Regions from separate parts of the Homo sapiens genome. Here region 2 is linked to region 1. The links come from fine-mapping of genetic effects on gene expression. A gene starts in region 1. The other region holds a variant in brackets. All regions are shown on one strand. Distances are from middle to middle.

Region 1 (9,788 bases):
CTAGGGATGCTTACTGGCAGCAAGAGCAGTGCCCAGTCAGGGTGGGAGGTAGCACCAGGCTCTGTGACCCTCACCCAAGTGGGGGGGTGGTCAGTGGAAGCTGGGGAGGCTTCACTCAGCTCAACCCTGCAGACCCCCCATATGAGAACCCCCCTCCTCCCACCAGCTGGGGGAGATGACATCACTGCTCTCTCCATGGGGAGGGGGCTCACAGGGCACCAAGTTCGGGATCCTAGGACTGGCAGGACCTGCTGGAGCCTGAGATGGGCCCCAGGGGCCTGAGGTTGCCTCCTCCTGTCCAGACCCAGCCTTGGCACCTCCCAAGACTGCCAAGGGCCCTACCATGGCCCCACAGCCCCCAGGGCTGGCAGTTCCATCTAGGAGGGTGCCTCTAGGCCCCACTCTCAGGCTAGGATGGAGAGGCAGATCTGGGCCTGGTGAGGTGACCTGCTTCTGGAGGGGCAGGGCCGCACCCGAGAGCAGGGACAGGTGCCCGAACACAGGGTCTCCAGGACGTAGCGCCCCCCCGCATACTTGAATGTATGTGCGTATTTATTGCTCACGTCTGTGCCATGTTGTCAATGGGTCCTTTCCAACCCAAGAGGTACATTTGTTTTTCTGTTTTTCCTGAAAAATAAAGTCGGCCAAGTGAGTGTGGTCCGTATGGGCTTAGTCCCGGGTGGGGGCCTAACCCGGTAAGAGGCTGCACTGTGCAAAGTGTCCACAGATACCCACTGTCTGGGCCCTCTGAGACCTCAGAGAGATGGAGTTCCCACTGCATTTAACCACGGGGGAGCTGGGGCACAGAGGGGTGAAGTGGCTGCCTGCTGTCACCACTGATTCCTGCACCCCTACCTCCTCACGCTCCCAGCCCCTAGGGAAACAGAGCATGCTCTGAGCTGACACTCACGTGGCCGGGACCAGCCCCCAGAAGCAGCAGCCCCCAGGTCAGCCCCACGACCCCCTGAGGACCCAGCCTGCTGCCGCCCACCCAGCACCCGGGGGAGGGAGGTCCTTTCCTGGAGTCTGATCCGGCTGGGCTCAGGGTCTGGACACTGAGCCACAGTGGAGGAGCCGACGGCAGATCTGCAGTCTTGGGGCTTGTCTGGGCGCTGCTTGTGGTGGGTGGCACCCCCACGGGGCCCCCGTCAGGGGACACACAGGTGCGCCGGGCAGTCCTGCTGCCCCTCGCCACAGCCCACCTGGCCATGTTGGCAGCCACAGCCTCTGTGCTGGTTGACTCCGTTGCCTCCTCCACCCCAGAAGGGGCCTTGGGAACCAGAATCAACGTGTACTCCAGGTCCAGGGTCCCAGCCAGCTTGCGTGTGGTGGTACACGCACACAGGGTCCAAGTAACCGTGCAGGGCCCAGGACCGCGCACAGCCAGGGAAGCGCAGCAGTGCCGCCCACGCTACTGGCTGGGACAGCCTCTGAAGGTGCGGCCGAGGAACCTGCTTGGAGAGACGCTGTGACGAGGGATGCCCAGGCCAGCAACCGTGCCCGGGAGGCAGGGATGTCCTGGGGCGGGGGGGTGTAGAGTGGCAGGAGATTAGGATGGCAAAGCCCCTTGCAGAAACCTGGCTGTGGGATTGGGGCTGCGGGGAGGGAAGGGCGGAGGGAGACAGGGTCCAGGGGGCCTCAGGCAGGAGCTGGCGGGATGCTTCTGGCACGCGGGGGGTAGCCATAGGTCTTCTCTAGGAACGTGCCAGCCTTGGGAAGGATTTCCCTCCAGGGCCAGCCTGGGCCCAGAGGTGCTGGCATCAGACAGAAAAGACATGGTAACGTCCACATCCCAACTACCAGCCGCCATCTCCCCATCCGTAAGAGGAGGGGTTGGCCCAAGCGGCTCTCCTTGCTCTAATTCTGCACTTCCAGGTCCAGACGGCTCCCTGGACCTCCCCACATGCTGGTCCAGGCCCTCTGGAGGCAGTGAGGCAGCCAAGCCAAGCCCAGCCCCACTGCACTTCCAAGCCCCCAAGAGACCCCCAGCCAGTGCCTCCATGGAGGAGCAGGCCTGGGTGCCGGTGGCTCAGCCGAGAAGAGGACAGTTTCCACAAATGGCACAGAAGGCTCTGGGTGGGAATAATAGAGGGTTGTTGGCTGAAAGAAGGACAGGGGGTAATCGAGGCAAAGCCCACGCCACAAGCACACTGGGAACGATGCCGCCGCGCCCCGGCCTCCCACGGGCCGGATGTGAGCTGGCAGTCCTGGCCGTGTCCCGCTGGGAGGGGCCGCACTGGGTCCCTGTCGTGCTCAGTCCTGCCTCCACCTCCCACCTCGCCCCATTCTCTTCCCTGCCGGAGTGTGGCGGGTGATGAATGCTGAAGGTTACGCTGCCCAGAACGCTTCTGCAAATAAACAGGCTGCTGTGTTTGCTCGCTTTCATAAACACGGGAACATCCTGCGCACAGACAAGGCTGGGAGACAAACCCCACACACCTCGGAGGGCCCTGGGGACGTCCAGAGCGCTGTCCACCGAGGGAAGGAGGCCCAGGTGGCTCCCCCGGGAGGGGTCTGGAGCTCCTAACACACGGCCACGCCATAGCTGCTCGTCCTGCCTGGGCCAGCAGGCAGCCTGGTTTGCTCACTGTTTCGCCGACGGCCGGCGGCCGAGGACCAGGGCTCAGGTCTGCACTGGCTCACGGAAGGGAGGCCGCCAGAGCTGGCCAGGGGGGCGGCAAGGGCCTTGCAGAGGAAGGCTGAGGCTCACAGGGGTGGTGACCTGCTCAAAGTCACGCAGCGACAGCCAGGAAGGGCTCTGACGCCACATCCAGCCCCCTTTCCACGCGACTGTGGCCTCTGTGGGCAAGAGCTGGGTGACTCTGTGTAGAAGGAACTGTGGTGAGGCGAGAGGTCCTGCGGCTCCTATGTCCCACCCAGCAGCACCAGGGATTCAGAGCAATCGTTCTAACTCCAGAAAAAGAAAGGCCACGAGGGCCACAGGCCCCAGCATCTGGAAGTAATGTCTGTTTATTGATAGAAAACAGGCCACGTCCAGAGAGGCCCAGGGCCAAAACCTCCTTCTGGAAGGCCGAAGTCCCACAGTGCCGGGGAGCGCAGGAGTCAGCTCGGCTCCGTCTTGCCAGGGCTGGGGGGACCCTCATCCTCACCCGCTTCCGGAGCTGCAGTGGATGTGGGGGCCCCTGCAGCCTCCAGAACCAGTTCCAGGGCCCCCTCGCCCGCCACACGGTGCACCTGCTCGCCTCTGGCCGTCAGGATCTCTTCGATATTTCTGGGGGGCAGGGAGGCAACATGGCTCTTCAGGGCCCCCCAGCCGCCCTGCACTTCAGTCCCCTCAGGGCGCCCCATGGCCAGGCCAGAGCTGCAAGCACCAGGCCCAGCACTCCTGTGGCATCAGGCCACACGGGCACTTCAGACGCTGGCCTGTGTGCCCTCACCAGCCCTGTGTCTCTGCCGGTATGCGCCGCCTCAGGAACCCAGTCTCCTGCTCCTGCCCCCTATGTGCCAGAGGGAAGAATCTGCAGCCCCGGGTCTGATGGGAGGACAGTCCCAGCTCCAAGGGCCAGGTACCACCAAGCACCTGGCATGCTGGTCTCAGACCTGCTGTCGCTGTTACTGTCCTGCCCAGGACCTCCCGGCCAGGCAAGGCCCGGACCAGGCTCCCGGCACCACCTCCACTGCTCTCCCAGCAGCCAGGGCCCAGGCCACACCTCCTGGTCCACACCCCAAGCCTTGCTGTGGGCCAGCCACCCCAAGATGGCAGAGGGCAAAAAAGTTCCACGCTAGAGAGGGACAAGGCTGCCAGTGATGGCAGAGGGCAGGCAGAGGCAGGGAGGCAGGGCCACAGGGCTGGCAAAATTTAACAAATAAAAACGCACCCCCTACTTGGGGCATACTTAAACTCAAAAGCTATCTGGGCTTTATAGGAAATTCTCATTTAACTGTGTGTCTTGTATTGATAAGGTGGCTGGATTTCCCAGGTGAGATCTATAAACCTCAACACTAGGGCAAGGTTCCCCCAGGGAGGCCAGGGTACTTCTGGGTGGCCTTCTGGCCCAGCCCTGGGGTACAGGCCTCACCTCTTCCCATTCAGGTCCGAGAACCAGCCCAGGTTGTCAGCGATGATATGGTGGTTCTGGCAGCCGGGGCAGGTCACAATGACCACGCCTTGGTGATAGGCCAGCTTGGAGATGCGCTTGGAGGACCTAGTCCCGCAGACCTGGCTGGGACAGGGTAGCTGGTGAGGCTGTGAGGGCCGCCACGCCCCTCCCGGGAAGACCCGCCCCTCTAGGGGTAGCTCCAGCCACCTCACCCTCTCCAGAGAAGGCCCCGCCCCCGAGGGATAGCTCCACCCACCCCCAACCTCGCCCTCTCCCGGGAAGGCCCCGCCCCAGGGACGGCTCCACCCCTCCTCATGGTCCGCCTCCGCTCCCTCCCAGAAGCCCCAAGGGGTGGCTCCACTCCTTCCTGTGACTTGACCACGCCGCCTCCCGGATCCCCGGCGGGCCGCTTCTCCCCGCAGGCCGTGTAGCGTCAGATACGGGTCTGTCCCCGGTTCCGTCCCGCCGCGCGCCTACCTTGCAGGTGTAGACGAGCTGGTAGTGCGCCGCCTCCACGCGCCCCAGAGCCGCCGCGGGCCCCGGCCCCTGCTCGGAGCTTGAGCGCCGCCAGCCCCAGGCCCAGGCCCGCCGCCTCCCCGCGACCTCTGGACGGGCCCCGCGGCCCCACAGCCGCCTCAGGCAGGGCGCCCGGGGCTGCACGCGACTCAGCAACCTCGGCGCGCCGCGCAGCGCAGTCCGCAGCATCCCGCTCGCCGGCTCCGTCCGCCCTGCCCCGGCCCCGCCCCGCCGCCATCTTGGAAGTGGGCGCCGGGCGGAAGCGGCGTTCTTGGGCTTCCGTCTTCCGGGTCGGGGGCGCGCTGCGCTATGCCGCCCCCTGGCGGCCTGAGGGGGCCCTGCGTCCACGTGCAGCTCGCACCCCGAGGACACCGCGGGCCGCAGCGAGGAGGGACGGCCGCGGGGCTGCGCGCGAGTGTCCGAGCGGGAATGCGGGTCACCCGTGCTGTTTATTTACGCAGCTGTGTTTTCTAACACTAATACAATGCATGCATGTATTGTGTGTTACATGGTGAAACAGAACAGATCCTGAAGTTACACAGATGGCGTGTGCATGGGGGTGGTGAGCACCCGCATGGCCTCCGCAAAATGAGTGCCGCTTAACAAACGGCCCCAATGCCCGGCAGTCCGGCTGGGCCTTTCAGGGCACCAGATTCCTCGTTCCAGGCCAAGTCAGCGACGGCTCGGGGAAGTCTGCGCCCCAGGGCGTCGGCACCCCCGGGTGGCAGGAGGCCGGGCCGGTGGGTGTGCCCTGGTCGGGGCCTGCGCTGCTGCGGCTAGGAGCCCTCAGTGTCGGTGTTGTCGCTGCCCGTGGTGTTCTCCCGGTCCTCCTCCCCCTGCCGCCATCCTTTCTGCATCTTCCTGAGGGCGCGCTTCCTGTGAAGACAGGTGTCTCAGGCGCGACCCGGCTGCCGCTCCCCAGCCCGTTTTGGAGAAGCCTGGGGGCCGCCCGCCTACCTGCGGTAGTTCTCAAAACTCTCTTTGAGGCGCCGCCGCTCCTTCTCGGGCGGCTCCCCGCTGCTCAGGCCTGCGTCCTGGAGAAGGGGGAAGGCTCGGGCTCCGGCCGGCTCCCCTGAGGGAACCCGTCCTTCTCACCCGCCCCCCACTGGCCCCTGTAACTGCAGACTGGTTGGGAGGCGAGGAGCCCAGACAGCCTCAGCTCAGCGCCAAGCTCTCCCTGTGGGACCTGCCTGTACCCCTGGAGGTGAGCCGGTGTGGGTAGCCTGCATTTCAGATGCCAAGACACACCCAGGAGGCCAAGCCACGGCTCCAGCCTGGGGTCCGGGCCATTGTTTCTACAACAAAGCCCGAGGTGGTGCTTGCTCTCAGGACTCCTGTGTTCACCTCCTCATCCACTGTAAAGGCCCTCGGAAAACCAGGACCAGGCACATCCACGTCCAAAAAGCCCCCCAAGCTGCTGCAGTGCCCAAGAAAGGGGGATCCACTTCGCAGCCCAGACACCGCACCCCGAGCACTGTGGGCAGAGACCTTGTGGTCACTCCTCAGCTGTCGTCGGGGCCACCGCAGGGGGTGCCCAGGGCAGGGAGCCACTCTCCCTGTGATCGGTCACCCTGAGGCCCACGGCTGGGAGGACCCCACCCCGGGGAAGCCTTACATGGGGGTTCCGCAAAACCTGCTCCTGGTGCAGAGCTGCAAAGGGCTGTTTCGGGCTCCCCCCGCCGGCAAGGCAGCCTGGAAAGGAGAGTCGTGCCTGTGGGACCTGCCCATCTGCTGGGCCACGTATAGCACGGCTGCCCCACCCCTCCCCGGCATTGCAGTGGGGCTGTCTTCCAAGGCCTGGTGGGATCCCCACATGGGTCCAGTGTAGACTCTGCTTTCTGTAGATGAGACTGAGGCCTTATGGCCTCGCTTGCCTGTTCATTGCTCCAGGAGGCCGCCAGATGCCAGCCCAGGCCCAACGCTCCCGCCAGTGACCATCCCTCCCCCGAGCTGGCTGCCTGCCAGGGAGGAACGCCTCCCAGACCTCGGGGGAACTTAAACCCTGGGCCTGAGCAGCACCGTCCCCCATCACTCCAAAGCATCTGTGGGCATGGCGGCCCTGGGGAGAGAGTTGGGGACAGCTACAGTGGCTGTCTGGGTCCTCCTGAAGTGGGGGCAGGGGTACTGCAGCAATTGGGAGAGAACCTTCAGGCGGCTGGACCCCCTCAGAAACCGCCAGGACCTGGGCAGACCAGGGATCAGGACCCTTGGGCAGAAACCACGCACGTCCAGTCTCAGCCCCACTGCGGTGAGGGCCAGGCCAGGGCTGTCCTGGCCATTGGCAGCCCCTTAGAGCCAGCCCCTCCCCTGCTCACCCTCCAACCTTCACACCTGCCCCTGCTCCTGCCACAGCCACCCAGGGGGATGGGGGCAGTGCCTGAGCCGGACTCCTGGGTCCTGCTCGCCTCTGTGCCTACATGGGGGCTTGGCATCCCCATGTTCAAGTGTTCTGAGCTGCAGCCAAAGGCGCTGGTCTTCACTTCCCCGTCTGCGGCTCCTCCTTCCCCTTCCGCCTCTGCTTGGAGGCCACGGCCTGGTACTCAGGAAGCTTGTCCAACTCCGGTGCAGCCTCCCAGGACCCCTCTGCTGGGCCCTCCCCAACCCCTACCTGACAGCACCTTCAGTGCAAACACCTACCTCATCACCACTGCCCACTCCTGGACACTCGGGAGCTGCTCCCAGCTAGCCACCCAGTCCTTCCCCCAGACAGGCAGAGGGGGCCTGCCCTGCCCGCTAGAAGCCCCTGCCACTGCCTTACCCCCACTGCACCGGGACACAGCAGGCCCTTGGCCACCCCTGCATTCAGCCCTTTCCCTCAAGCCACGTGGGGCCCCATCTCGCCCCATCTTCTAGCTTCATGCACCTGGTCGTTCGCTCGTTACCACCTCCCTCTGTCCAGGAGGAAGCTTGGAGCAGCCAGGACTGGGCCTGCTCACCTCTGCACCCCGTGGGGGCTGCCCAGAGGGGCCCCACACTCTCAGGACGGTGGGCCTGCTCACCTCTGCAGCCCATGGGGGCTGCCCAGACCCCCACACTCTCCACCCCAGGGGACACTTGTCCCACTAGCTGGGGCCCTGGGTTCCAGCTGGGCTCTGTAGTTTGTTCTCTAGGTGACCTTGACCATTTTACTTATCCCCAGCCCCAGTTTCCCTGTCTGTGGAGTGGGGGTTGTGGGGGTTGACACAGGCATTGCGGCACGGGCTGCCTGTGCTGAAGATGGGCCTCACTTGGGGAAGCTGGGAGGCCTCTGGGTGTACTGCTGTCCCCACCTCACCTTTGTCTGAGAGCTGGGTGTCCTCCAGGTCCTGGGGGAGTGAGAGCTTCCAAAGAGAGTCAAGATGTCCCATTAGGCCACTTCGCCAAGGACTGGACCCGGCCACACTGCCCACCCCAGCCCTTGGCCCTCAGCTGGGTGCAGCCATTGCCGTCACCCCCTGCACAGAGCTTCTCAGAGACTCAGGTGCCCAGCAGACGGACATTGGGCGGCCAGGAGGTGGGCACTGTCCGTGCCTTACCTTACCCCTTGAGCCATCAGAGGCCTTAGCATTTGGCCACCTGCTCTTCCTCCACCCAGCCCAGCCCACCGAGCAGGGCCATGTGACGGGCAGTGTGGGGCTATGCCTGGTGGCAGCTCAGCCAGGACCCCAGGTGAAGGAAGGCCAGCCTCGTGCTGGCTGGGGTCTCACTCACCTCCTGGGACCTCCTGGGTGAGCCATCTTCCAGGTCGGAGCTCTGTGGTCATAGAAAATGGGGTGGGTGGGCTGTGAGGGCAGAGGGCTCCCCAGGCACAGGGTGGGCAGGGCACAGAGCGGGATCCTCCAGGGAGCCCTGGGCATGCCCTCAGCCACACCAGGCCCCCTCCATGCCCAGAACAACCTGCTAGGCTGCCTGATGGCCAGGCCCAGGACCCACCCCGGCCCTGCAGCCCCACTTCCTGCTGGGACCCTGAACTGCTCGTGTGCCCTCACCCCACTGCCAGGAGGGGTTTGGTTAGGTTGGGGCCCGTCACAGAGAAGGGTTGGGTCGGGAAGGCCGGGGCTGAGGCTCCGTGCTCCCCTGGCCCTGCATCCCACGCGCCGGCTCCCCTCCCTGCCGCAGGCCCCAGGCCCACCAGGACGAGCGTCTCCAGCTGCTGCCGCCTGAGCCTGCCCTCCACGGCCAGTAGCTGCGCCTCACACTGGAACACCTGCAGCTGCAGCTCATCCGCCTTCTCGCCCAGCTCCCGCACCTGCTTGCGCAGCGCGTCCTTCTCCTGCAGGCCCCGGGCGTGCTGTGCGTGCAGCTCCTCCCGCGTGGCTATGGCCTGACGGGACAGCACAAGGCCGACCCTCAGTGAGGGCCCCAAGCTTGCCCTGGGCCCTCGGCCCGGCCGCCCAACTCCAAGCAGAGGCTCCGGAGGACGTCAAGCCGCTGGGCGCGGAGGCTGGTCACAGCCCCTCCATTTGTGTGCTCTGCGGACACGAAGTCAGCACGTGGGGGATTGTAAATGTGACAGTTGTCCCTGCTGCCCTTCTGTCTCCTCCCAAGCCTGCACCCCCGGTGGACACAGCGTGTGCTATGTACCCCCACACGTGCACATTTGATAAATTTTGGACGCGGCTTGATATGGAGACCCTGACTGTCCATAGCTAAGCGTCCTTCGTGACCGCAGCACTCTTTACCACCCCTGTCCTCACTGCGGACACTGAGACGCAGGAGCGAATGTGCAAACACGACGGCTTGACCACCCCTGCAGCCGAGGCTGGGAGGCCCTCACCTAACCCCTTCTGCCCAGACTGGAGCAACGGCTGGCAGCTTCCCTAATCCCTGGCCAACGCGCTCCCGGGAAGTCCCGTGGGAGCCCCCGCCCTGGGAGCCACACCAACCCCCATGGGGGCACAGCTGGATCTGCCCTTTTCCCCTGCCTTGGCGTGGGCCAGGCGCGAGTGAGGCTGAGGTGGGGCTGAGACAGGAGCTCTGAGCCTGGGCTGCTCTCATGGGGGCCGGGGCTTCCTTTGTAGCCCCAGGGGTCTCGTTTTAAGGCTCCTGATGTGGACAAAGTGCCATCCAGCATTTAGCCGAAGCAGCAATGGTGTCCATTGGAAACAACCTCCAGGATGGGACTTGGGACGGGGCATGGGAAGCAGACACAGCCCTGCCCCGCGACGCTCCATCCGGCTCACAGCACGTAGCACTGGAGGCCTTGCAGGCCTCACTCCCGTGGCCCAGGCT
Region 2 (12,024 bases), 96 kb after region 1:
ATTTTCCATCAAAATTTTCTTCGCTTAGCTCGGAAAGTGAGTTTCCAACAGGCGCCTCCTGCGGCACTATCCCTGTCAACGGGAAAGAGAGCAACTATGATCTCAGTCACGAGAAGGCGGGACGTGTGTGTGGCGCACAGATCAACAGGCACACCACCTTCCCACCCAGCTACCGCCACACCAGCATGATCTGCAGAAACCAAGGCTGAACATCTTCCCACATGTGTGCACACTCTTTCATTTTTAAAACTAGGCCTATGTTTTGCTTTGTCCATATACACACATGTAGACATAGGCACAGACCAGGGACAAGATCCACCAAATCGAGTTCCAGACAGTTCATGACCTGCCCCTGTGCATCTCACCAGGCGTCCAGCAGGGCCGTCTAAAGACAGACCCCAGGAGACCCATGGCCACCATGCCCTGCCCCAAATGGCCATTTAAGCTTCACAACAAAAAGCCAAGTTACAAAAGGAACTGGCATTAACACTGCTGTTGTAGTGAGACTCTGAACCCATCCAGTCTGTAACTTCCAGAATTTCTGGTCTACGTTAAGACAAGTAATGTAAGTTGTTTCAAGCTCAAATAACTTCAATCTCTTCCACCAATCCCCACAAACACCACACCCCATGCTGCTTCTGCTCTCGAGACAGCATCTCTGCAGCCCCACCTGGGTCTGGGCTCCTGGCTTCCTGGAGCAAGTGTCTCCTTTCCTGCAGAGGTGGCACACCAGGTGGGAGGCCAGGCCCGGAGGGCTCCAGGAAGCCAAGTGCAGGCCCTGGGGTCACACAGCCAGGACCCGGCTCCAGGGGCCCCGGGGGCAGTGGCACTGGGAACATCGGCACTCTGGCAGGACTGGCCAATGGGCCGTCAGGGAGCGTCTGCGGAGCTGCATGGGAACGGTGGAGAAGAGGTCTGGGGTTACTGAGGGTAGCTTGAGTTACTGGAAGGAGCTGACACTCGACGTGTTTATGACAAGTTATTTTGTACAGCCCCATTTCTTTTATAAGGGAGGTCCAACAGAGCAGAAAGCCTGAAGCCACCACCCCACCGCACCATCCGTGGTTTGCAGAAAAGCAGAGTATCCGCTTCCTTTTCTAGGGGAGGGGCACTTGAGCAGTCACAGCGGCACGCGGGCTCCAGGGCCCGGCCCACACGCAAGCCCATGGCGGCCGCCTGGCACAGAGCTCTGCTAGGCCCGAGTCCCCTCCTCCACGGCCAGGGGTCACACAGGCCACTCGTTCATTCCTTCATTCTTCCGACTCAACATAAAACCTGAGAGGGCTGCTGCCTACCAGCACCATGCTGGGCCCTGGATGCTTCAACAACAAAAGAAATGCTGGGTCCTCATGGGGGTCGGGACAGATGAACTGAGTAAGAGAAAGCGCTAAGGACAGCAATCAACCAGGAAGTGGTAACGGTGTCTGAGGACGAAGCAGACTGGACATCAGGCAGGGAGGGTGGGCAGTGGGCCCAAATCAGGAGTGTGGCTGGTCCACAGCGTGGGAGTGGACATGGCACGAGGGCAGGAGGGCTCAGGGCCAAGCTTGGAGGGCCTGTGGCCACCGTGAGGACCCTGGCTTGTCCTCAGGTGAGATGGAGAGTCTGGAGGGTCTGGGGAAGAAGCAGGAGGCGAGCAGGAAGGAGCCCGTGCTCATCCAGGCATGCGGACCTGCGTGCAGGCCGCGCTGGTGAGGTTCACTGACGAAGGAAGCCGAGAAGCGCGAGAGAGGAGGGGGCATCTGGACTTGACTCCCTGGAGCTCTGGGCTGGCCCTTCCACCGACGGGGCCGACTGGGAGAAGCAGGTTACAGAGGGGCACAGCCGAGGGCGCCGCCCAGACACGGTGCGGCTGAGGCTCCCGGAGAAACAAGCAGGGAGGCTGAGCAGGCAGCGGGCGCTCAGGGCAGTGTCGCCAGCACATGGATATTTATGGACATGGAAAGCCATGAGCCTCCCCTCCATGGGCTCCTCAGGGGAGGAAGCATGAAGGGAAGAGGGAGGAGACCGAGGAGCCCCACAACCACCGAGGTGGTGTGAGACACTGCCTCCAACAGTCCACATCTGAAAGCAGTTCTCCAGGAGGCAAGGGTGCAGGCCATGGCTCAGCCCACAGGAAGCAGGGGCTTGTCTGAGGGCAGCAGCCGCGCACCTGGGCTCACCTGAGGGCAGCAGCCGCACGCTCGGGCTCGAGTGCTCAGGGCTCGGTGCAGGCACCGCCAGCAGAGGGTTGGCGATCCCCAGGGCTCCTGGCTGACTGAGTCCTGGCCTGTCCAACTGCTCCATCTCGGAACTCGGAGTGCCAGGACACTGCTGCGGGAGGGCTCCATCCTGATGCCATACTCCAGCCCCCTCCTGAGGGAGAACAAGACCTGCCCTGTGGAAGCCGCCTGTGGCCGCTCTGCAGCGCTGCCCGCCTGCCACCACCGCGCTTGCTGTGTCCCTACTTCAGGACAGGAGGCACTCAAAGCCCTTTCTGGGGAATTAGGGAATTCTCATAGGCACACGTTTGCAGTTACACTGTCTTTACAGATACATACTTTCAGTGTGGAAATGACAGGGACAGAAGCCACCTTGCCAGACGCCTCTGTGCCACCCCAAGCCAAGGCTGTACCTTAATCTGCCGCTCCACCTGCTGCAGGTGAACCAGCCACGTGGGTGCGGCCAAGGACTCCTCTTCTGGCTTCTCTTTCAGCTGGGGATCGAAGAGTCGTAACTGGGAAGCCATCTAGACACGGGCAAAAATCAAAGGCCCCTGTCACCACCGGGTGATGGCAAGTGAGCCGTCTTCAAAATGCCGGGCAATGCAGCTTCAGTGTTCACTGGCAATAAAGTTTAATTAGCTGCCTATATGTTTCTAGTATGTGCTTAGGTGACATACACAGCACATGGGACGCTGGGTGACTGGGAAGTTGCTGTAGACGACCTCTTGGCCCACGGGCACTGGGTTGGCAGTGCTAGGCACCCCCCTGGAACAGGCCTGGCCCGAGACTACCACCTGACCACGTGGACCTGACTCAGCAAAAGCTGGACTCCCCCAGGAATGTCTGCATGCTTTCATCGGGAATTTGGGGGATGCAGAGCGGGACAGAGGGGGCAGAACACAAGTTTGGCCCTGTGTTCGTAACCACTAAGGTGGGGGATGAGCACCTAAGGACGCATGCATGAATGACTCTCTGAACTTTGAAATGGGTCTAAAAATGTCCCTAATACAGTTTTTGGGTATCCCATGAGCACGTTCTCACAAATGGAACTACTGACAAGAGGTGAAGATCCTGATGCAACACGGGCGCCTCCCATACTCTCGTCAGTCATGCCGCCTCTGTTTTACAGGCGAAGAAACTGAGGCCTGCAGCAGTACAGCCAGGACTCAAGCAAAGGCTGCTGGACTCTGGACACTTAAGCTATCAACCACCAGACTAAATTGCCTCAAAATAAGAATATCCTGGCCGGGCGTGGTGGCTCACGCCTGTAATCCCAGCACTTTGGGAGGCCAAGGCAGATGCATGCATCACTTGAGGTCAAGAGTTCGAGACCAGCCTGGCCAACATGGTGAAACCCCATCTCTACTAAAAATACAAAAAATTGGCCAAGCGTGGTGGCAGGCGCCTGTAATCCCAGCTACTTGGGAGGCTGAGGCAGGAGCATCACTTGAATCTGGGAGGCGGAGGTTGCATTGAGCCGAGATTGCACCACACTGCACTCCAGCCTGGGTGACAGAGTGAGACTGCGTCTCAATAAAAGAAGAGTATCCTACAGGTAGTTCCTTCTGATTGTGAAACTCGCTGCCAAGGCTCTGTGCTGGCACACGGTGCCTGAGAGTTCCCAGGCTAAGACGCAAAACACGAAGCCATTCAAAGATCTTTATCCGCCCAAGAGGCAGGTTCTGAGCGCCTACCACAATGCGCGTCTGAACCATCGCTACCCCCATGCCCGGGGGCTCTGGCAAGCCCTCCTTCCCTGCAGTCAGCACAGCATCCCGAGGACAGGCGCCAGGGGCAGCACCTGCACAAGCTGGCTGATCAACACCGGGGAATACAGGTGCGGCTGCGTCAGGATGCTCTTCGCGATGGCCTCACAGTAGTGGAAGGCTTGCGTGGCCAGCCCCATTTCCGCCAGGCGGCAGGAGTAGATGAACTTAAACACCTGAAACGACAGAAGCCTTGCTGCCCTGCGGCTCCCCCGCGTCCGAGCATCGCCGATGGACAAAGCCTTGTACTGCCCTGAGGCTCCCCTGCATCCGAGCATCGCCCTGTGAGCTGTGAACTCTTCTGGACACTTCACTCATCATCGTCTCCCACCCACCACGCCCGCTGACCACAGTCCTAGTCCCTGTTCCCCAAGGGATTTCAAGAGCAAAGTAAACGACTAAGCTGGTAGCAAACTCACTCTGCTTTCCCCCCAACCCCTTTCATGGGGCCACTCGGCTCTCACAGTCACAACGCCCCAAGAGCACGGCACTGAGACCACTGCCTTCCGTGTAGCTTAAGCTGCTCCACAGACATTCTCTAGATACTTCATTCTTTTTTATTTTTTTTGACAGGGTCTCACTTTGTCACCCAGTCTGGAGTGCAGTGGCACAATCACAGCTCACTGCAGCCTCAATCTCCTGGGCTCAAGCAGTCCTCCCACCTCAGCCTCCGAGTGGCTGGGAACACAGGTGCATGCTGCCACGCCTGGCTAATTTTTGTATTTTTTTTTTTTTTTTTTTGTAGAGACAGGGTGTTATTATGTTGCCCAGGCTGGTCTCTAATTCCTGAGCTTAGGTAATCCACCCACCTTGGCCTCCTAAAGTGCTGGGATTACAGGCATGAGCCGCCATGCTCAGCCTCTCATGTATGTTTTATAGACACCACCCCCACACTGCATCAGAGAATACCGCCCTCAAATATTAAAAATAGCTCGTACGGCTGGGCGCGGTGGCTCACGCCTGTCATCCCAACACTTTGGGAGGCTGAGGTGGGCAGATCACAAGGTCAGGAGATCAAGACCATCCTGGCTAACACGGTGAAACCCCATCTCTACTAAAAATACAAAAAATTAGCCGGGCGTGGTCGTGGGTGCCTGTAGTCCCAGCTACTCGGGAGGCTGAGGAAGGAGAATGGCGTGAACTCAGAAAGCAGAGCTTGCAGTGAGCGGAGATCGTGCCACTGCACTCTAGTCTGGGTGACAGAGCGAGACTCGGTCTCAAAAAAAAAAAAAAAGCTCATACAGGCTAGGTGCGGTGGCTCACGCCTGTAATCCCAACACTCTGGGAGGCTGAGAGGATGACTGCTTGAGCCCAGGAGTTTAGGATCAGTCTGGGCAACACAGTTTTTTTCTACAAAAAATAAAAAAAATTAGTGTGGCATGGTAGTGCTGCTTGTAGTCCCAGCTACTCTGGAGGCTGAGGTGAATCACTTGAGCCTGGGAGTGATCAAAACAGTGCACTCCAGCCTGGGCAACAGAGTGAGACCCTGTCTCCCTTAAAAAAAAAGCTCATGAAAATAATTGAAATCAAATGCAAACGGAAAGCCTCAATTCAATGGGATCTTGTTTCTTAGCATTTTAGATCAAATGTCTTCTCAAGATCCTCCCCCAAAAAACTCACATCATTTTTTTCGATACCAATTCAAACAATCTAAGTAGCCAAAAGCTTGTTAGCACTGAGTGCCTGCCCAGCCATGACAGCTGCAGGCTGGCAGCACCTGCTTACCTGGAAACTAGGCAGGGGGCAGGTCTCGGCACCCAGGGACTGGGCGTACTCATAGGCTTCCGTCCTCTGGATTGCTTCGTTGGTTGCGAACTTTAAGAATGGCAAACTGTAGAGGAAGTGAATTATTTTGATTTGGAAAAAATGGCCAATTATTGGCATAGTCAACCTTGGAGCAAATCATCCAGAAGTGTGTCCCACCACGTGACAAATAAAGACATGATTCTGGCCATTTCTGAATTCACTAAAGGAGAAGGATTTTGTTTTACTTTGAAAGGAAAACTTACAGGACTACACTGACTTGGTTCTTTACCTGTGATTGGATCCGATTAAGACAAGCTTTGTAGTTTTCTTCGTGTAAACACCAAATCCCGCCTGGGCCATGAGGTAGCAGAAGTGGGCCGCATCCAAGAGGCCCCTTGAAGCTGCGGAGAGACGACACGACACACGGCGGGGGCTCAGCGACCGGGAGCGCTTGCAGAAGTCAAGGACGCGCACAGAAGGCACCAGAGACGCCAGCCGGACCGAGAAGGCCGGGTTCTGGTGATTTCTGCCAACGCCACAGACAACCGGGCCTTCGGCGCTCCATCCGCGACACCCAATGCCCATCTCCACCCCTGACCTACCCAGAGTGTCGCCCATGGTAGCCATCGTCCTGGACTCGACGTCCATGTTGTTGTTCAAGTTGGACAAGACCATGGCGAGGTGCGGCCTCCAATCTCCCCATTTCTCGTCTCCACAGCACTAACATGAGGAAAAACAAAACGAAGCCTCATCCCCGGAAGCCAGCGCCATTTCAATTCCACACAGCTGGGCTCACCAGGCACCTCACGGCCTGTGACAGCGTCACCCAC[G/A]AGCAAACTCCACACAGGCAGTGGAGCCTGTGCAAGCCACCAGGCAGTGCCACTCACCGTGGACGCGGCAGGCATCCGTCCGGACATGAGCTGGTAGACTGTCTGCAGAGGGTCGTTGATTGGGAGGCTGTTAGCAAACCTAGGCAGACATAAACACAGAAAGACCCCATGCTGGCTCAGCTAAAAGAAAAAAGCCGGCCGGACATGATGGCTCACGCCTGTAATCCCAGCACTTTGGGAGGCCAAAGTGGGCGGATCACCTGAGGTCAGAAGTTAAGAGACTAACATGGAGAAACCCCATCTCTACTAAAAATACAAAAATTAGCCGGGTGTGGTGGTGCACACCTATAATCCCAGCTACTCAGGAGACTGAGGCAGGAGAATCGCTTGAACCCAGGAGGCAGAGGTTGCAGTGAGCTGGGATCGTGCCACTGCACTCTAGCCTGGGTGACAGAGCAAGACTCTGTCTCAAAAAAATAAATAAATAAAATAGTAATAAAATAAATTTTTTAAAAAATCAGCCCTAAGCCCTCTGATGTAATGATTAGACTTATATTTCACTTAGGCAAAGTACACACATCTCAATATTTTATTTTTCTTTCTTATCTCAATATTAAAAAAAAAAAAAAAGCTGTAAAAGATAAGGCCAGGTATGGTGGCTCACGCCTGTAATCCCAGCACTTTCAGAAGGCCAAGGCGGGCAGATCCCTTGAGGCTAGGAGTTTTGAGACCGGCCTGGCCAACATGGCAAAACCCACCTCTACTAAAAATACAAAAAATTAGCTGGGTGTGGTGGTGGGTGCCTGTGGTCTCAACTACTTGGGAGGCCAAGGCGTGAGGATCACTTGAACCTGGGAGGCAGGGGTTGCGGTGAGCTGAGATCGCGCCCCTGCACTTCAGCCTGGGCAACAGAGCAAAACTCAAAATTTAAAAAAAGCTATAAAAGATGAAGACTGAGGAATTCACTGAGATTTTACATGAAGTACTAAAAACCATGCAGTTAATTAAAAACTTTTTAAGCTCTCCACAACACGACCCAAGGAAGCCTCGAGGCCAAGGAAGCCCGAGTTCGTGTGGGAGCACAGCACAGTCAAGTGAGATCCGCCTGCCGCCTGCCCCCAGGGTGCGGACGCCGCGTGCTACAGGGAGCCAGCAGGGCTCGCCACTGGACCAGGCCACTGTGGGACTGTACCTGGTCATGACTCGGGCGTGTGTCCGGCTGTCCATCTTACTTGCAAGTAGCAGAGCGTGACCCCACAGGCCATTCTTCATTGCAGACTCCAAAGCATCCTGCAAAAGGCATTTCAGGGACCTTGGTGGGTTATCGGCGGCGCTCACGTGACATGAGTCAAGACAGGCCATGTGTCCTCACGCAGCAGCAGATACACAAACAACCCAAAGGCCTCAAAAACACACTTATTCACCATTTGGAGACTAAAGACACGTAGCGATTCATTATTTTCCTGAGTTTCAAAGTCCCTGTGGTAGTGGGTATTTGTAGATATTTGCTGCTTTTATCCATTTTCAGCATAAAACACAAGCACGCTAATCACAAACAGGGCTAATCACGCAGCGCTGCCCACCACGCCGCCCCATCCACTGGGAAACACGCTCGAGTCAACTCCCCAGTTCTAACAGGAGGCCTCCGCGAATATCCTGTCAACACGGAGAGTGACTCCAGTAAGGCAGCCTCCCCTTTCACCAAAATCATCCAGGGCATAATTTAGAACTTCTGGCTGGGAGGCAAAAACGTTACAGTAGAGAAAGATGTTAATAAAAGCTAACAGGTTACATGACTTCAATCAGTTATAAAACATCCATAATAGACTCATACTGATCAGGCCGGGCGCGGTGGCTCATGCCTATAATCCCAGCACTTTGGGAGGCCAAGGTGGGCGGATTGCTTGAGCCCAGGAATTCGAGACCAGCCTGGCAACATGGTGAAACCCCGTCTCTACAAAAAAAAAAAAAAAGTTAGCCAGGCGTGGTGGCATGCAGCTGTAGTCCCAGCTACTCAGGAGGCTGAGATGGGAGGATCACTTGAACCCAGGAGGTCGAGGCCACATTAAGCTGTGATCACGCCACTGCACTCCAGCCTGGGCAAGAGTGAGACCCTGTCTCAAAAAAAATTAAAAATAAAAAAATAAAAATACTGGTCAAATATGCCCTTTCTGAGTTTATCATGATATAAAAGGACAGAAAACTCTCAGCCTATCCCATGTCTCTGCTGTTCAGGGCCACACATGCTTCTGAGACTGGCCTCTCTCCTGCTTAGCACATCCAAAGCAAACATCATGCACCCTAGACAGCCCCTCCTGTGCACATAGTGTCACTGCTGCAGTCACTATGGACCCCCCAACCCCACTGTCCCAGAGCAGGCTCCTGTCTCAGGCCCCCCACCTGCCCCAGTCCCCACGCTGCTGTGACCCCAGTCACTGGACGCTACACGCACTGGCTGCTCTCTTGCCCATGGCCTTTCCATGCACTGCGCCTCTGACAGGTTCAGTGTGCCCTCCCAACTCCCAATGACTTCTGGGCTGTGGACTCGAGTCTGACTTTGTGAGAATGCCACAACTTGTGTCATGCACATTTCATCCGAGATTTGGCACACACAGCAGGGGCACGGCCTGTGCTCAACATGTGCATTTATCGAATAACTGAAAATTTAATCTGCAGGTCTCCAACACTGGAAACAGTTAGAAGGAAACCAACATTAACACCTCCAGAAGGATGGCATACAAGAGTCAGGCATTGTTCAGGAAACAGCAAGACCCGAAGCCCCACACTGCAGCGCGGATGCTCCCAAGAGGGGGCCACGTCCCTCCCTGAAGGCTGCAACCCCGCACCAGGCCCGACCCAGTGGACATGTGCAGGCGCCAGGTGCCATGATGAGGAGGCGCACCTTCTTACGGCCATACAGCAACAGCTCCCTGAACCTCTCGGTCTCTCTCTCGAGCGAGCTGGCGGCAGCCGCCGGACCACCAGTGAGGAAAGAGAGCTGGGCCTCACCAGACTCCTCCTCTTCCACCTGCTCCACTGCCTCATTCGTGAAATCAATCAGGTTTGCTTCATTGGGCGACTTCCCAGGAAGCCACACTGTTCTGTGGTCTCGTAACAGAAGCTCCGCAATGTCGGTCCCTACCACGGTCTGTTTGGGTCAACAGGAACAGGAAGGAGAACAACGGCTCTCAGGTGAGGACGCGTTGGACCACCACAGGCACAAAGCCCCACCCTGGACACAGCCAGACCCACAACTACCCGAAAGGCTGGCAAGGCTGGGCTGAAACCTCATCCCATCCCAACCGCACGTTCCCTCTCCCTCCCTACCCAGCCACTACAGTGTGCTTCCTAAGGGGGCCCTCGAGGCTCCCATAGCTGGCCACGCGGATCCCGCCCTGCTCCTTCGGGAGGCTGAGCATTCCCAAGACGAAATGAAGACCAGCAAGAAGAAACACTCTAGAAGTAGAAAGAAACATACCCCATTTTGTCTGCATAAGAGAACAATAAAATTCCAAAGAAGACTTGCAGACTCTTTGTCAATTAAGTTTTCATTCTGCAAACATTTCATAGCTTTGTTCTGTGCAAAATTAATGACATCCACCTTATGGGTGTCGTCTCTGCAGAAAGAACACACAGTGAGCAGTGATGTCTGCAAGGCCGGGCTCACAAAGAAATGCCTCAACAAGGAACATACTTGGCCAGGGGTCCCGGGAACGCCCGCATCTCCTCCTGCTCAGACGTGTGCTGCAGCAAGGCCTACGAGGAGAGGGCCGTGGGTCAGTGGCAGCCAGTGCGCAGCCACCCTGCTGGCAGGCCGGCCAACCCAGGCACGGATGCTGCCCGTGAGAGGAGAGGATGGCATGGCCCACCTGCCCCGCCCCACAGCAGGTGAAGGCTCTGTCGAGGCTGTTACATGGAACATGGCCTGTGTGGACCACAGCCATGATTTCAAACTTTATTTTAAGTAGTGAAATCCATTTTCTCTCCCCAAATACTGAGGCAGAACCCCAATACATGTGACAGAAGCCTGCAGAAGCTGCAGGAAGAGGCGCATGCCAGCCCCCGTCACCTCGGCAGCGCCGTGCACGTCCACCCCACCCGCCCCCCTCACCTGGGCAGCACCGGGCCCACCCACTGCATCTATCATTGAAAAGCACCAATAAAGCAAACATCCCCAAAACGAGGACAGAAAATGCATATACAATCAAACCACGTTGAACACCCAAGGCAGACGCTTACAATACTGACTTCTAGGAGGAAAAATATATGATCAAATAGAAGAAAAACCCTACAAATTGAAAATTCACAGGAATAAACATTTTCCAAGGACGTATGTCCAGAGACAAGGTCTGACAATTGAAGATGACAAACTGCAAAGCAGAGAGTTCCCCAGGGCAGCAGAGCAGTGACGCCACGCTTCTGCGTGTGCCATTACCTCCATGCTGTGGACCTCCACCAAGGCCGGCTGTCCTTCTGAAGGCAGATTGGGAATCACTTTGATAAGCTGACCGCCAGGGCCAAACCTGGCACAGACATGAGGCACTGAAAATTTTTCAGGAGAAGTTGGTCTTGATGAAACTGCATTTAAAATAAATTGAAAAAGAAACAATCAGCTTGTCACTGATGCTTCTGAGCCTAGATTTTCAATGTGCTCACACAGCTTAAATCACAGGTTAGATTTATCACGACAGACTTCCAACTCAAAAGTCGGTAATTGTTTAATATCATACTTAAAAGTAGAACTTCAGCATACGTCAGGAAAAGAAAAATGTCTGAATCATTAAGCATGAAAGCTGTTCCCTTGTACACTGAGAAAGCTCCCGCAACACCCTCATGAGCCGCCCTGAGGCTCCTGCCACGGTGCGTAATCCTCCCAGGCCTGGCCCACTCCCGAGCTCTTCCATTTTCACAAAATCAAATTCAGACTGCGATGACCACACAGCACCCAGCAAAAAGGACAGCAAAACACCTCAAGCAAAAAAGAAAATAAGGAGCCAGGCATAGTGGTGCATGCCTGTAATCCCAGCACTTTGAAAGGATCCAAGGCAGGAGGGCCACCTGAACCCAGGAGACAGAGACCATGACCGTGCCACTGCACTCCAGCCTGGGTGACAGAGTGAGACTCTGTCTCTTAAAAAAAAAGAAATGAAAAAATGTTAACTGAAACAATACTTTAAGAAAGTAAGGCCGGGCACAGTGACTCACACTCTAATCCAAGCATTTTGGGAGACCGAGGAGGATGGATCACTTGAGGTCAGGAGTTTGAGACCAGCCTGGCCAACATGGCAAAACCCCATCTCTACTAAAAATACAAAAATTAGCTGTGCATGGTGGCAAACACCTGTAATCTCAACTACTCAGGAGGCTGAGGCAGGAGAATCGTTTGAACCCGAGATGCAGAAGTTGCAGTGAGCCAAGATCACATCACTGCACTCCAGCCTGGGAGACAGAGTGAGACTCCATCTCAAAAAAACCAAA

What was found. PIP is the estimated chance that this variant, and not a neighbour inherited with it, causes the effect.
Region 2: its variant is fine-mapped to the expression of DNLZ in lung (TOPMed, PIP above 0.99).

The regions. Positions count from the first base shown.
Region 1 is chr9:136,358,949-136,368,736 of GRCh38, forward strand. DNLZ (DNL-type zinc finger) reads right to left here and starts at 4,796. Exons shown (of 3, transcript NM_001080849.3): 1 at 4,539-4,796; 2 at 4,041-4,180; 3 at 535-3,232. The coding sequence starts at 4,766. The coding sequence ends at 3,064. It overlaps CARD9 (caspase recruitment domain family member 9), which reads right to left. Exons shown (of 13, transcript NM_052813.5): 8 at 8,689-8,880; 9 at 8,268-8,309; 10 at 7,852-7,897; 11 at 6,193-6,269; 12 at 5,535-5,611; 13 at 5,008-5,453. The coding sequence ends at 5,354. It overlaps LOC124902309 (a long non-coding RNA gene), which reads left to right and starts at 4,421. Exons shown (of 2, transcript XR_007061863.1): 1 at 4,421-4,504; 2 at 8,676-9,788. It overlaps GPSM1 (G protein signaling modulator 1), which reads left to right. Exons shown (of 14, transcript NM_001145638.3): 14 at 1-653. RefSeq lists silencers at 4,152-4,431, 4,532-5,031, 5,062-5,161 and enhancers at 5,373-6,263, 6,264-7,153.
Region 2 is chr9:136,453,439-136,465,462 of GRCh38, forward strand. SEC16A (SEC16 homolog A, endoplasmic reticulum export factor) reads right to left here. Exons shown (of 32, transcript NM_014866.2): 9 at 10,982-11,124; 10 at 10,241-10,302; 11 at 10,025-10,163; 12 at 9,449-9,694; 13 at 7,739-7,836; 14 at 6,604-6,685; 15 at 6,319-6,436; 16 at 6,006-6,117; 17 at 5,696-5,801; 18 at 4,006-4,146; 19 at 2,615-2,728; 20 at 2,163-2,355; 21 at 671-889; 22 at 1-72. Among named protein-coding and RNA genes, the nearest start is that of INPP5E, 20 kb to the left of the region's middle. The variant G/A (reference allele first, on the strand shown) is at 6,547.